Regions from separate parts of the Homo sapiens genome. Here region 1 is linked to region 2. A link means that fine-mapping ties the variant in region 2 to the expression of a gene that starts in the linked region. Tissue or cell type: whole blood. Region 2 holds a variant in brackets; the other region holds the start of a gene. All regions are shown on one strand. Distances are between the middles of the regions.

Region 1 (5,730 bases), 27 kb after region 2:
CACGCCTGTAATCCCAGCACTTTGGGAGGCCAAGGTGGGTGGATCACCTAAGGTCAGGAGTTCGAGACCAGCCTGGCCAACATGGTGAATCCCTATCTCTACAAAAATACAAAAATTAGCTGGGCATGATGGCAGTGGCTGTAATTCCAGCTACTGGGGAGGCTGAGGTGGCAGAATTTCTTGAACCCAGGAGGCAGAGGTTGCAGTGAGCCAAGATCATTCCATTGTACTCCAGCCTGGGTGGCAGAGCAAGACTTCGTCTCAAAAATAAATAAAATAAATAAATATATTTAGATGTTTTGGGCATCAGCATGGAGAGATCCATTGGAGATCTTATGGTTTGGTCAAACCTGTTTTACAGGTGGGGAAACTGATGTGGAGAGTGGCAGGACCTGGCTTCACCATCCTGGTTAGGGATCTCCTGTCATCAAAGAAGATTCTAGTCTGCTCCTTTCCAGATCTCTGAGCCCTGCAGAAACAACAGGTGGCTTCCTCTTCTTCCTCTGTAGAGGGTGAAACCCAGAGGCCAAGACTGGGAGGAGGGTTCTGGGCTTTCATCCATACTCTCTAGCTCCTAACATTGCCCAGAGGTGGGCCACCCTGCCTACCCATCAGCCTCCCCCTGCCCCTCTGCCAAATCTGGACATAATTATAGTAATTATACTGCATATAAACAGTATAGGTAACTGCTTCTGAGCATAATTACAGGAGATGTTTACATACTCACAACAGCATCAGAGTAAATGATAGCTTACTTTCCCCTTAATACTTAGATATCAGGGACCTATCCGGGATAATTAGCCAAATCTCAGTAGTGAGGGTGTGGTAAAGACCTTACCGTTTCCCACTACCTGCAAAGCAGGAAGGCACCTCAGACAAAGCAGGGTCCCAGCCAAGATTTCACAGGACATCAAGAAGCCTGCAGAGAAGTGGGCTAACATCTACTGGGCACCTACTGTATGCAGGCGCTCAGGGGAGGCCAGCAAACACAAGCGAGTTCTTTCAACCTATTAACAATTCTGCAGGCTGATATTAGTGTATCCTCACTTTACAGGTCCGGACATGGGTTCTCAGAAGCTTAGTGCACAGGGTCACCCACAGCGAGCCATGGAGCTGGGCATGGGCGCTTTCCACGGTGCTACCCGGTCACAGCAGCGGGCCAGCTCTGCCCTCTTCCTTTATCGCCTCTTCTCACTTCTCACAGCTTCCTCTTCCTGGGCGGCCTCCTGCAGCCCCTGCTGGCCGCGGGTCTCCGCTCAGTTCCCCAGTGTCAAGGCCGTCTACTGCCCCCTCCGCCCCTTCTTCCTGTCCCTGTTGTGTGGCTGGGTGTTATCTCTCCAGTAGAAGGGGGTGGGGTGGGTGGAATGGGGAAGGGTGGAGCACAGGGCGAAGGCCTTGCCAGGCATCCCGGGGTCTCCAGCTAAGCGAGGGGCCGCAGGGAGCGCGGCCTCGGGGTCGCCAGACCCTCGGCTTCCAACCACCCGCACACACAAAGGCTGCCCCGGCATGCGCGGGAGAGCGCGCTCGCACCCACGGCCGTGCGCACACACGCACAACTGCACAAAGACGTGCACACTCCTCCATCCACACCAATACACTCCCTAATAGGGCCCGCACACAGCCGTGCGCCCTCACATACACCACACCACCACCACCACCACCACACACACACACACACACTCTCACACGGACTCGCACGCGGGTGGACCCCCTCCCCCACCACAAACGCCGACCTTGGGGCCCTGACGCGTCCCGCCGCGCTGCCCTGCCTCGCTGGGCGGCGCGCGCACACGCAGACGCGCACACACACACACATACACACACGCACACACCCCGCGCGGTTCCACGCCCCTGGCCGCGGCCCGGGCGCTGCGCTGCTCGACGCGGCGGGCGGCGGGCGGGGACCGGGGGCGGGGGCGGCGGCGGCGGCCGGGAGAGCGGAGGAGGCGGAGCAGGGAGCCGGGAGCGGGCTGGCCCGCGCTCCTCCTGCTGGCTGGGGATTTTCCAGCCTGGGCGCTGACGCCGCGGACCTCCCTGCGACCGTCGCGGACCATGGGCGACAAAGGGACCCGGTGAGTGCAGGGCGGCCGCCCGGCGGGGGGCGCGTGGGGGCGACCTCGGCGAGGACACGGGCGGGGGCTCCGATTGCGTCCTGGTTCTGCGTTCGCGGCCACCGCGGGATCTAGTACCAGCTCTCCTCCACCCGAGGTCTCCTGTGTGGTCTCCCCGGCAGGGCCGTGGGCGGGGGGACCCAAAGGGCGAGGGCCGGGCCGCCCCATGTGGGCCGCAGCTCCTGGCCCGGACACACAGCTCGCTGACACCCAGCATTGGCCGGCAGCCGCAGAGACGCACGGGGGCAGGTTGACACACAATACACGCACGGGCACACTAACCCGTGGCACAGGCATGCTGGCGCACACACTGGCAACCGCTAGCACACGCTCATCACACGCAGTGGCACGCCGTCATACACGCCTCGGTCAACACATTCTTGCTGACAGCCTTGTTGGCATGCACAGCTCACAATCCAACACACACCAATTCTAGCACACCCTCGTGCTGGCACACACGTGTGGGCATACACTGATACGCACACTGTCACCTGCACTCGCTGTAGCAAACACTCTTGCTGGCACACACATCACCCTCACTGGCACACACACTTGTGCTGGCATGTCTCACCAACACAGCGGAGCGCAAGGCCACACCAACACTGACCCCCACAGACACAATCAGACTGATGCCCTCAAAGACTGGCACCCCACAGGCACGAGCTGCTAGCCCAAGGCCCGCTGACACACACGCTTCAGGCCCCACATGGCCAGAAGTGGAAACACACACATCACACAGGGTAGAGCGCCCCCCGCCACCCCCAGCCTGGGGAAAACAGATCGCATTTCATCCAAATAGATCCCATCCATCTACTCTGTTCCCTTTCCCTCTGACCTCCTGAGGAGTGGCTGGCCAGGGGCTGTTTTGAACCTAGGGCTGGGAGAACCCCTCCCGTTCTCCTAGAACCTGTCCTGAAATACTCAGAAACAGTCTCTGCCTCTGAAAGGGGAAACTGGGACAAAAGGAGGAGGGGGCTGGAGCAGGACAGCCCCTGGGGGCAGCCCTTCAGACAGGACCAGCGCTGGTCAGGGGCTCAGCGTTGCCACCCTATTTTCCCCGTTGCCCTCCCCACCCCCTAAGTGGGCACAGCAGCCTCTCCCTGGGCTCCCCCTCTTTCTCATTGTTTTCTGTCTTTCTCTTCTATTCTTGTGTCCGACTTCTGCCTCCTTCCTTTCCTCCCCTCCCCTCTCCTCGTTTCCATTTATTATTAAGCTCTTGCTGTATACTAGGCGTAGTGTGGGGGATCAAAGATGCGCAAGGCCCACTCCTCCCCTGAAGGAGCTAACAGACTAGAGAGACACCACCCCGGTGGGCACCACCTTTCAGGGCCACTGACAAAGCTATTTCTCACCCACTGCCATCTAAGACTCTCTCTCCACAGTGTGAGAAAGGGCTTGCAGAGATTATTTCCATTTTCTAGAGGAGGAAACAGGCTCAGAGGCAACTCAGGCTCTTAATGTTTAGAAACTACTTTCCAGCCATCCTCCTGACAGCTCTTCCAGGAGGTTAATTTTCCTCTTCCTGTTTTCTAGCAGAGGAACCAGAGGGCTAGAGGCCATGTGATTTGCCTAAGGTCAAAAGGGGCCAGAGGCAGGGCGGAGGCTGGAGTCCACTTGGTCATGTCTCTGTGGATGGCCCTAGGGCACTGCCAGGCCCCTCATGGGCCAGGGAGGGGAGCCCTGCTCTGTGCTGGAGGCCCAGGCTTTGGGGGGGACGGCAGAAGATCATGCTGTGTCTGCATGAACCTTGATGGCTAGTCCCCATTGCAGCTGGCTGGCCAGCACTGTGACCTAGGCCTCTGTCCTCAGTAGGAAGGTATGTGACTCCTTCCCCAGCCACATCCATCTGCCCTGAAATTAAGACCCTCTTGACCCATGAGGTCAGGCTTTTCTTCCTGCAGGGCATAGCAGGGAGTCGGAGCCATTCTCCACTCCATTGTCCTTCCTAGGCTGCCTTGTGATCGGAGTGACTCAGCCTCTCTTGGGTCTCTCTGTACCTCTCTGTGACTTGGGGGATAAGTGTCATTGTTGTCCTGCTGACATGATTGTCAGGAAGATGTGGACACCATGGGCTTCCAGGCACCTGTTGGAGACCCTGTCTCTGAGGCCAAGGTATTTTCCATGGCTCCCCCTGCCCTGCCTCAAACTCACTGGTGGACCTTTGGGACATTGGGCAATTGCCTTTACTTTTCCGGACGTTAGTTTCCCATCTGTAAACTGGAGCTATCAATACTTACATTTTAGGGCTTCCCTTGTACTTACTGACTTCACTGGGCAGGGGAAGAGGCACTGCCTGAAGCCTGGAGCCAAGGCCCGGCTAAATCCACCTGATGGTGGCCCAGACCTCCCCTTCAGACTCTCCTGCAGCCCCATGAGGCCTTTCTGTCCCTTTCCGGACAGTTGGCTAAGTAATTTGGAAAAGAAGGGCAAAATCAGTAATGGGCTGTACCTTGTCTTTTTCCGTAAGGCATGAGTACCTATGACTTAGAAGAGGAATCTGCAGATATCAAAAACTGAACATCAGGAATCATCGCAACCATCCCTCCATCTGGAATTGCACCCCCATGTGAAAGTGACAATGAAAATTTATCACAAACTGTCATTGCCCTCTAGGAACTCCCAGGGTCAAGGGGGAAAGAGGTGTTAAATACCTGGACAGGGCTGTGCGCGGTGGTTCACGCCTGTAATCCTAGAACTTTGGAAGGCTGAGATGGGCAGATTGCTTGAGCTCAGGAGTTCGAGACCAGTCTGGGCAACATACCATCTCTACAAAAAACACAAAAATTAGCTGAGTGTGGTGGCACATGCCTATAGTCCTAACTACTCTGGAGGCTGAAGTGGGAGGATCACTTGAGCCCTGGAGGTTAAGGCTGCAGTGAGCCATGATCATGCCACTGCACTCCAGCCTGGATGAGAGAGTGAGACCCTGTCTGAAAAAATAAAAAAAAAAAATACCTGGACAGGACTAATCACAGGGCAGGAGTATGATGGTTGCTGCAAGGTGCTCTGGGAACAATCATATATTCATTCAACAAATGTTGATGAGTGCCTTCTGAGTGCCCAGGGCCTGGGGATTCAGCAAGGAAGGAGTCTACTCTGTCCTCCAGGGATTTAGAGCAGAGCAGGTGGTCATAACGCAGGATGACATGTGTTGTGGGAGGCTTAAGGAGAAGTCCCCAACCCAGGCCCAGGCAGGGAGCATGGTACAGGAAGCTCTCCTGGAAAGGAGGTGGCGTTGGAACTACTGAGCTTCATCTGGAAGGATGAATAGGCCAAGGGGGCGGGATTGGGAATGATATTTCTGGCCAAGGGTGCAGAATGTGCAGTGGCTTGGAGGCAGGAAGCAAGGCGTGCAGCCTGGGGCCTGGGCTGGGGATGATAGTGAGCCTTAAGAGGTAAACACAGACCGGTCACCAGCAGTCTGGGAATGTCAGGCTAAGGAGAGAGCATTTTCTCCTGAAGTGGATGGTGATTCAGAGAAGAGTGTGAGGCAGCAGAGGGCTGGAAGCAGATGTTTTCATTTCAGAGAGATGTCTTTGGCAGCGCCAAGTAGGGTGGATGGGAAGAGCAGGCCTAGAAGCAGGAAGACCAGTGAGGAGGCTGGGGAGAAACCTGAGAA
Region 2 (8,256 bases):
ATGGCTACCACTTCTTGAGTGCTTGTGAAGTGTCAGGTGTTATTTATTTATTTACTTATTTTGAGACGAAATCTCGCTCTGTTGCCCAGGCTGGAGTGCAGTGGCGCAATCTCGGCTTACTGCAAGCTCTGCCTCCCGGGTTCACGCCATTCTCCTGCCTCAGCCTCCTGAGTAACTGGGACTACAGGTGCCTGCCACCACGCCTGGCTAATTTTTTGGGTATTTTTAGTAGAGACGGGGTTTCACCGTGTTAGCCAGAATGGTCTTCATCTCCTGACCTCGTGATGCACCCGTCCTGCCCATCTCGGCCTCCCAAAGTGCTGGGATTACAAGCGTGAGCCACCATGCCCAGCCAGTGTTTTTTATTTTTTAAACTTGTCTTAGCACATTTAATTCCCACAATGTTATGAATTAGATTCTCTGTTTCACAGAGGAGGAGACAGCGCACAGAGCCAGGAAGGGGTGGAGGTAAGATTAGCTCCAGAGTCTGAGCTCCACCCCATGCCATGTGCCCTGTCCAGCCTCCCAGATGAGCAGCCTCCCGCTGGAAGGCCCAAGCTCCATAGAGCAGCCTGCAAGGGGTTCTTCACCCGCTGCCTGCACCCCACCTTTCCAGCCTCAGCCCCAGACCAACCTCTGCTCTGTGCACACTAGCTCTTCTTTCCCCAGTTGATTTTCAGGCCTCTATGTCTTTGTGGATCCCTTTCCCCTGAGCAGCCTTGTCTACTTTTCACCAGCAAAATCTGTTCCCTCCAACCCTTAGGCCTCACCTTCAAGGCTCTTGCCTCTGTGAAGCCCCTTCAGCTACCCCACCGCCACCCGACCTGCCCTGTTCTCTGGGTCTGTGTTCCAGCTCTTGGTTCAGGCCTCCATGCAGACACCTGTCATGTGACATCACTGTGAGTTATGCTGGAATCCAGTTCCTCATACCAGGGTGTCAGCTTCTGCATGATGACAAGGAGCAAGCCCAGGCCCAAGCTGAGGATCCTGACAGACCGTGGCTTGGTTTCTGGTTCTGCCACCTCCTTTGTGGGTGCCTCGAACAAAATACTTAATTCATTGTGCCTCAGAGGGGTCCTGAGTGTTTTTGGCAATATGTGTAAAGTTCCTGATACACAGTAGATGCTTCATAAATGCTGGTTTCTTATTATCAAAGACAATGACTGTGTTATATTTTTCTCTGAATTTAAAAAAAGCTTCTGTATGATCATAAAATGACATAAACAGTGAATTGATGTGAAAGGCAACTTGGTAATAACCTTGAACATTTTAAATACACTTGCCCTTTGACCCAGCAGTTGCGCTTCTAGTGCTTCCAGGAAATTATCCTGCAAATACATTCCTATAGGTGAGATATTGTATATGCACAAAAATATTCACTATAGCAAAATATTGGAAGCCACCAAAATGTCCAACGCTAGGGAACTGTTCAAAATTGTACTGTGTCCATCAGATGGGATACTATGAATCATGTACAATAATGAGATACCTCTATGTGTATTGGGATAAGCCATTTTCCAGGATTTAAAAAAATTCCAGGTGCAGTGGCTCATGCCTGTAACCCTAGCACTTTCGGGAGGATCATATGAGCCCAGGAGTTCAAGACCAGCCTGGGCAATGTGGCAAAAACCCATCTCTACAGAAAATAGAAAAAAAAATAACTAGCCAGGTGTGGTGGTGCATGCCTATAGTTCCAGCTACTTGGGGGGCTGAGGCAGGAGGATTGCTTGAACCCAGGAGGTTGTGGCTGCAGTGAGGCAAGATCACTGCATTCCAGTCTGGATGACAGGGTAAGACCCTGTCTCATAAAAAAAAAAAAAAAAGAAAGAAAGAAAAGTGCAGAACACTGTGGAAAATGTTACAATTTGTTTAGTTTAGTTTATTTTTTGAGACGGAGTCTTGGAGTCTTGTTCTGTTGCCTGGGCTGGAATGCAGTGGCATGATCTCGGCTCACTGCAACTTCCACCTCCCGGGTTCAAGTGATTCTCATGCCTCAGCTTCCTGAGTAGCTGGGATTACAGGCGCCCACCACCATGCCTGGCTAATTTTTGCATTTTTAGCAGAGATGGGGTTTCAACATGTTGGCCAGGCTGGTCTTGAACTCCTGACCTCAAGTGGTCCGCCCACCTCGGCCTCCCAAAATGCTGGGATTACAGGCATGAGCCACCATGCCTGGTTGACAATTTGTTTAAAAACCAAAAGGAAAGCCTGTACATCCAAGTGCTTATATATGCATTGAATATCTCTGGAAGGAAACACCAGAAACTTCTTTCAGACACGGTCTTTCAATGGGAGCTGGCTTCAGATCTATGGAAAGGAGATTTACTTTTTACTGACTCTTTTTTTTTTTTTTTTTTTTTGAGACAGGGTCTGGCTCTGTTGCTCAGGCTAGAGTGCACTGGTGCAATCACAGATCACTGCAGCCTTGACCTCCTGGGCTCAAGTGATCCTCCCACCTCAGCCTCCCAAGTAGCTGGACTACAAGCATGTGCCACCACATCTGGCTAATTAAAAAAAATTTTAAAGTAAAGATGAGATCTTATTATGTTGCCCAGGCTGGTCTTGAACTCCTGAGCTCAAGCAATCCTCCTGCCTCGGCCTCCCAAAGTGCTGACATTACAGGCGTGAACCACCGTTCCTGGCTCACTGATGATTTTTGACTGTTGTATGATGTGCAGGTATATGAGTTAATAAATTTTAAAAACATAAAAAATAAAAAATGCCCCGTCCGGGAGGTGGGGGGCAGTCCCCGCCTGGCTGCCGCCCCGTCTGGGAGGTGGGGGGCGCCTCTGCCCAGTTGCCCCGTCCGGGAAGTGAGGAGCCCTTCTGCCCGGCCGCCACCCCATCTGGGAGGTGTACCCAACAGCTCATTGAGAACGGGCCATGATGACGCTGGCGGTTTTGTCGAATAGAAAAGGGGGAAATGTGGGGAAAAGAAAGAGAGATCAGATTGTTACTGTGTCTGTGTAGAAAGAAGTAGACATAGGAGACTCCATTTTGTTCTGTACTAAGAAAAATTCTTCTGCCTTGGGATGCTGTTAATCTATAACCTTACCCCCAACCCCGTGCTCTCTGAAACATGTGCTGTGTCCACTCAAGGTTAAATGGATTAAGGGCGGTGCAAGATGTGCTTTGTTAAACAGATGCTTGAAGGCAGCATGCTCGTTAAGAATCATCACCACTCCCTAATCTCAAGTACCCAGGGACACAAACACTGTGGAAGGCGGCAGGGCCCTCTGCCTAGGAAAACCAGAGACCTTTGTTCACATGTTTATCTGCTGACCTTCCCTCCACTATTGTCCTATGACCCTGCCAAATCCCAAGAATGATCAATAAATACTAAAAAAATTAAAAAAAAAAATAAGGCCGGGCACAGTGGCTCACGCCTATAATCCCAGCACTTTGGGAGTCCGAGGCGGGCAGATCACCTGAGGTCAGGAGTTCAAAATCAGCCTGGGCAACATGGTGAAACCCCATCTCTACTGAAAATACAAAATTAGCCGGGCGTGGTGGCACATGCCTGTAATCCCAGCTACTTGGGAGGCTGCGGCAGGAGAATCGCTTGAACCTGGGAGGCCAGGGATGCAGTAAGCCGAGATCGCGCCATTGCATTTCAGCCTGGGCAACAAGAGTAAATCTCTGTCTCACCAAAAATAAATAAAATAAAATAAAAATAAAAATGAACATCCAAAGATATTCGATCTCTACCATTGTAAGGGAAATGCAAATTAAAACAATAAGATGCTACTTTTCGCCTGTCAGATTGCCAGCATTTGAAAGCCTGGTGTCAGTCCTGCCATACCTTGCTGGTGGTAGAGTATAATGGTATAGCTAATTTTTTTTTTTTTTTTTTTGAGACAGCGTCTTGCTCTGTCACCCAGGCTGGAGTGCAGTGGTGTGATCTAGGCTTACTGCAACCTCCACCTCCTGAATTCAAGCGATCTTCTGCCTTAGCCTCCCAAGTAGCTGGGACTATAGGCGCTCGCCACCACACCCGGCTAATTTTTGTATTTTTAGTAGAGATGGGGTTTCACCATATTGGCCAGGCTGGTCTCGAACTCCTGACCTCATGGTCCGCTGGCCTCAGCCTCCCAAAGTGCTGGGATTACAGGTGTGAGCCACCGTGCCCAGCCGATACAGCTAATTTTAAAGCAACTTAGCAGAATCTAGTAGAATACACTGCCCCCATGACCACAGGATCCCATTTTCCAGTGTCAGTTCCAAGCAGAAGATAGAACTCTGTCCCTGCCATGCTCAACATCAGCTCAGCAGCAGCAGCTACCTCTGCATGGGCACGGGGACCAGGCTG[T/C]AGGAGCTGGTCCAGAAAGGACGCCTCACCATGCCCAGCTAATTTTTTTTGGTATTTTTTAGTAGAGATGGGGTTTTATTATTTTGGCCAGGCTTGTCTCGAACTCCTGACCTCAAGTGATCCTCCCGCCTCAGCCTCCCAAAGTGCTGGGATTACAGGCATGAGCCACCATGCCCAGCCAACATCTGTGGTAAGTTTAAGAGTCTCTTGCCACAATGGCTTGGGGGTAGGAAGGCAGGTGCGTCAAGGGTATGAGGAGGAGAGTTCTGGGTGCTCTAGTACCCATTGATACTTTGGTCTGGAGAATTCTTTGTTGTGGCGGGGGTATCCTATGCCCTACAGGATGTTTAGTAGCATCCTTCCCCTCTCTCACTAAATGCCAGTAGCACCCCGCACCCCCCTACAGTTTGACAACCAAAAGTGTCTCCACACATTGCCAAATGTCACCCAGGGATAGGGTTGCCAGACTTAGCTAATAAAAGTTCAAACCACCCAGTTAAATTTGAATTTGTATTTCATACATATAACAAATTTTTTTTCTAGAATTGGACAACACCTCATTCTATAAAACAGAATGAATGTTCCTACAAATAACTTTTCAGTATAAGGATGCCCCAAATGACATATTGAGTAGAGAACATACTTATACTGAAAAAGTACTTATTTATCTGATTCTAAGATTTCACCTGGTGGCCTGCATTTTTCTGGCAATCTTAGGGGTGAGGGTGGAGGACTGCCCTGTGTTGAGAACAATTGCCATAGGACACCAGTCATAGAGGAGAAGCTGAGGCCATCCTCGCTCTCTAGGGCTTACAGTCTCATCGTGGGACACAAACACATCAGGATGCTGCACTGAGAGGCATCACCATGGGTCTTTAGGGCCCGACAGGCGGGGCCCTCCAATGCCTGGTTCTGCTTCTCTTTCCTCCTATTCAAAATGTTCTTCCCAAGGGTGTCCATGACCTAGTCACACTCTGTCCCCTGCAGGCAGAAATCACTGAAACCAAAAGAGCGACACTGAGCCTCCAGGGGGCAGATGCAAGGGGCCGGTGGCCTCCTGAAATCGGAATCTCCTGCAAGAAGCACGGTTCTGAGTGTGGGAGAGCTGTGAGGCTGGACCGTGGGGCTGTCCCCAACCAGAGCTTAGGGACCCTGGAGGGCGGGCCCCCGGGTCTAGCAGAGGGGAGCAGATTCAGAAGCTGGAGGCAGTGACTGAAGCTGTGCAGTTATTTGTTCAGTTTTTCTTTTTCTTTTTTGTTTTTTGAGACGTAGTTTCACTCTTATTGCCCAGGCTGGAGTGCAATGGCGCAATCTTGGCTCACTGCAACCTCTGCCTCCCAGGTTCAAGCGATTCTCCTGCCTCAGCCTTCTGAATAGCTGGGATTACAGGCATGCGACACCACGCCCAGCTAAATTTATTTGTATTTTTAGTAGAGATGGGGTTTCTCCATGTTGGTCAGGCTGGTCTCGATCTCCTGATCTCAGGTGATCCACCTGCCTCTCTCCCAAAGTGCTGAGATTACAGGCATGAGCCACCGTGCCTGGCCTGTTCAGTTTGTTTATTGAGGACTCACTGTGTACCAGGCACTGCGCTGGGTGCTGGGGAGGCCTCAGCAAACAAACAGACCAAGCCAGGTCCTGCTCAGGGCAGATGGAGGAGGCAGGAAGGGGGAACCATCAGCACTGTCTGTGAGGGGAGGCATGCACGGTGGGAATCCAGAGGATGAACCTTTCTGGTCTGCGGGGCAGAGGGGTGATCAGCGAGTGCTTTGGTCAGGTCTGGGCATACGTGGAGTCCAATATGCTTGAGACATCCGAGGCAGATGTCCAGAGGCCAGGAGAACTGTGGGGTCTGGGCTTGGGAGCGGACTCTGGGCAGAAGCCCTGGAGGAGGGTGGAATGGTAACAGCCGGCAAGAGAGAGGAGGACAAGGACAGAACCGGGAGGCTTGGGGCTTCGGGGCAGTGAGGGAGACTTAGAAGAGGCCGCCAGAGGGGCAGGGTGATGCACGCCTGTAGTCCCAGCACTTTGGGAGGCTGAGCTTGGAGGATTACTTGAGCCCAGGAGACTAGCCTGGTGCGACATGGCGAAACCCCGTCTTTACAAAATACAAAAATTAGCTGGGAGTGGTGACTTGCGCACCTGTAGTCCCAGCTCCTTGTGGGGCTGAGGCGAGAGGATCGCTTGAGCCCAGAAGTTTGAGACTGCAGTGAGCAGTGTTTGTGCTACTGTGCTCCAGCCTGGGTAACAAAGCGAGACCCTATCTCAAAAAAAAAAAGGAAAAAAAGAAGAAGTACCCAGAGGGAGACCTCAGGATTGTCGTCAGGTGGCCAACGGAGAAGAGAATTTCCAGGAGGAAGCCATCACTGCAAGCAGTACTAGGAGGTGGGCAGGGGAGCTGGAGATGGTGGTGGTCCCTTAGGGCCATGAGTCTCCCAGCTGCAAGCCTTCAGGCCCCAGCGGCTGGAGGACAATGCTGGGACACCCTCTCCCCACCACTAGGCCACTCCAGCTCACTCTAGCCTCCTTGCTGTTCTTCAGCCATTGAAAGGCCTCAGGGCCTTGGCCCTTGCTGTTCCCTCTGCCTGAAGGATGTCCCAGTATATCCTTATCTCCTTCAGATATTTACTCACATGCGGGCCTTCTCCACTAGGCCTTCCCTAACAATCATTTTCAAATAGCAATGTCCCCTCTCATCATTACCGAATCTCCTTCCCTACTTAATTTTTCTCCATAATACATTTATCGCCATCCAACAAAACCTATACTACAATTTTCTAAACGTTCCTTTTGATTTGAATGTATAATATGTTTTGTGGTTCAAAATTGAAAGCTGTGCTCAGTCTTTTGCTATTTCAAACAGTACCGCAATGAATAACCTTGTGCCTGTATCATTTTTTACGGTGCCGATAAAGCTCTAGGCTAAAGCCTCAGAAATGAGGTTGCTGGGTCAAGGAATAAGTGCATTTATAATTGTATGTATTAATTTTTTCCTGCTCCCTGAATAGAATGTAAGTTCCATAGGAGGGCAGGGATTCTTAAACTCGTACTCATTGTTGTATCTCCAGTCCTTCAAACAAAGACATGGCACAGAGTAGGTACTCAATAAATACATGTTAACGTCAGGCACTGTAGCTCATGCCTGTAATCCCAGCACTTTGGGAGGCCAAGGCCTGCGGGTCACCCTAGGTCAGGAGTTTGAGACCAGCCTGGCCAACATGGTGAGACCCTGTCTCTACTAAAAATACAAAAATTAGCCGGGCATGGTGGCAGGTGCCTGTAATCCCAGCTACTCGGGACGCTGAGGCAGGAGAATCACTTGAACCCAGGAGGCGGAGGTTGCAGTGAGCTGAGATGGCGCCATTGCACTCCAGACTGGGGGACAAGAGCGAGACTTTGTCTCAAAAAATAATAAATAAATAAATAAACAAACCCATGTTGAATGAATGAATGGCCCCACTCCTGGAAGTCTGAAGATTTACTTCTGACAACCATTTCAAACTCTGTCTCCTTCACAGCCACAGGGCTGTGGATCCTTAGAGACCTTTGAAAGCAAGAGATGGTCCCATCTCCTGTTCCAGAAGTCACAGCGCTTTTTCTTCATCAGATACAGGGTGCCATTCTAAGGCCTGGCTGTTTTCTCCCTCTGCTTCCCTTACTTTACTCAGGAAGGCATTAAAAAAGTATGTCTTGGCCAGTTGTGGTGGTTCACACCTGTAATCCCACCACTTTGGGAGGCTGAGGCGGGTGGATCACCTGAGGTCAGGAGTTCGAGGCCAGCCTGGCTAACATGGTGAGACCCCATCTCTACTAAAATTACAAAAATTGGCCAGGCGTGGTGGTGTGCACCCGTAGTCCCAGCTACTCAGGAGGTTGAGGCAGGAGAATTGGTTGAACCTGGGAGGCGGAGCCTGCAGTAAGTCGAGATTGCGCCACTGCACTCCAGC

What was found. PIP is the estimated chance that this variant, and not a neighbour inherited with it, causes the effect.
Region 1: ARRB1 starts here. The variant in region 2 is fine-mapped to the expression of ARRB1 in whole blood (TOPMed, PIP above 0.99).

What each region holds. Positions count from the first base shown.
Region 1 is chr11:75,347,930-75,353,659 of GRCh38, reverse strand. It overlaps ARRB1 (arrestin beta 1), which reads left to right and starts at 1,999. Exons shown (of 16, transcript NM_004041.5): 1 at 1,999-2,072. The coding sequence starts at 2,053. RefSeq lists enhancers at 791-1,746, 2,809-2,858 and a silencer at 1,979-2,258.
Region 2 is chr11:75,373,480-75,381,735 of GRCh38, reverse strand. No RefSeq gene overlaps it. Among named protein-coding and RNA genes, the nearest start is that of RPS3, 22 kb to the left of the region's middle. RefSeq lists an enhancer at 1-555. The variant T/C (reference allele first, on the strand shown) is at 4,310.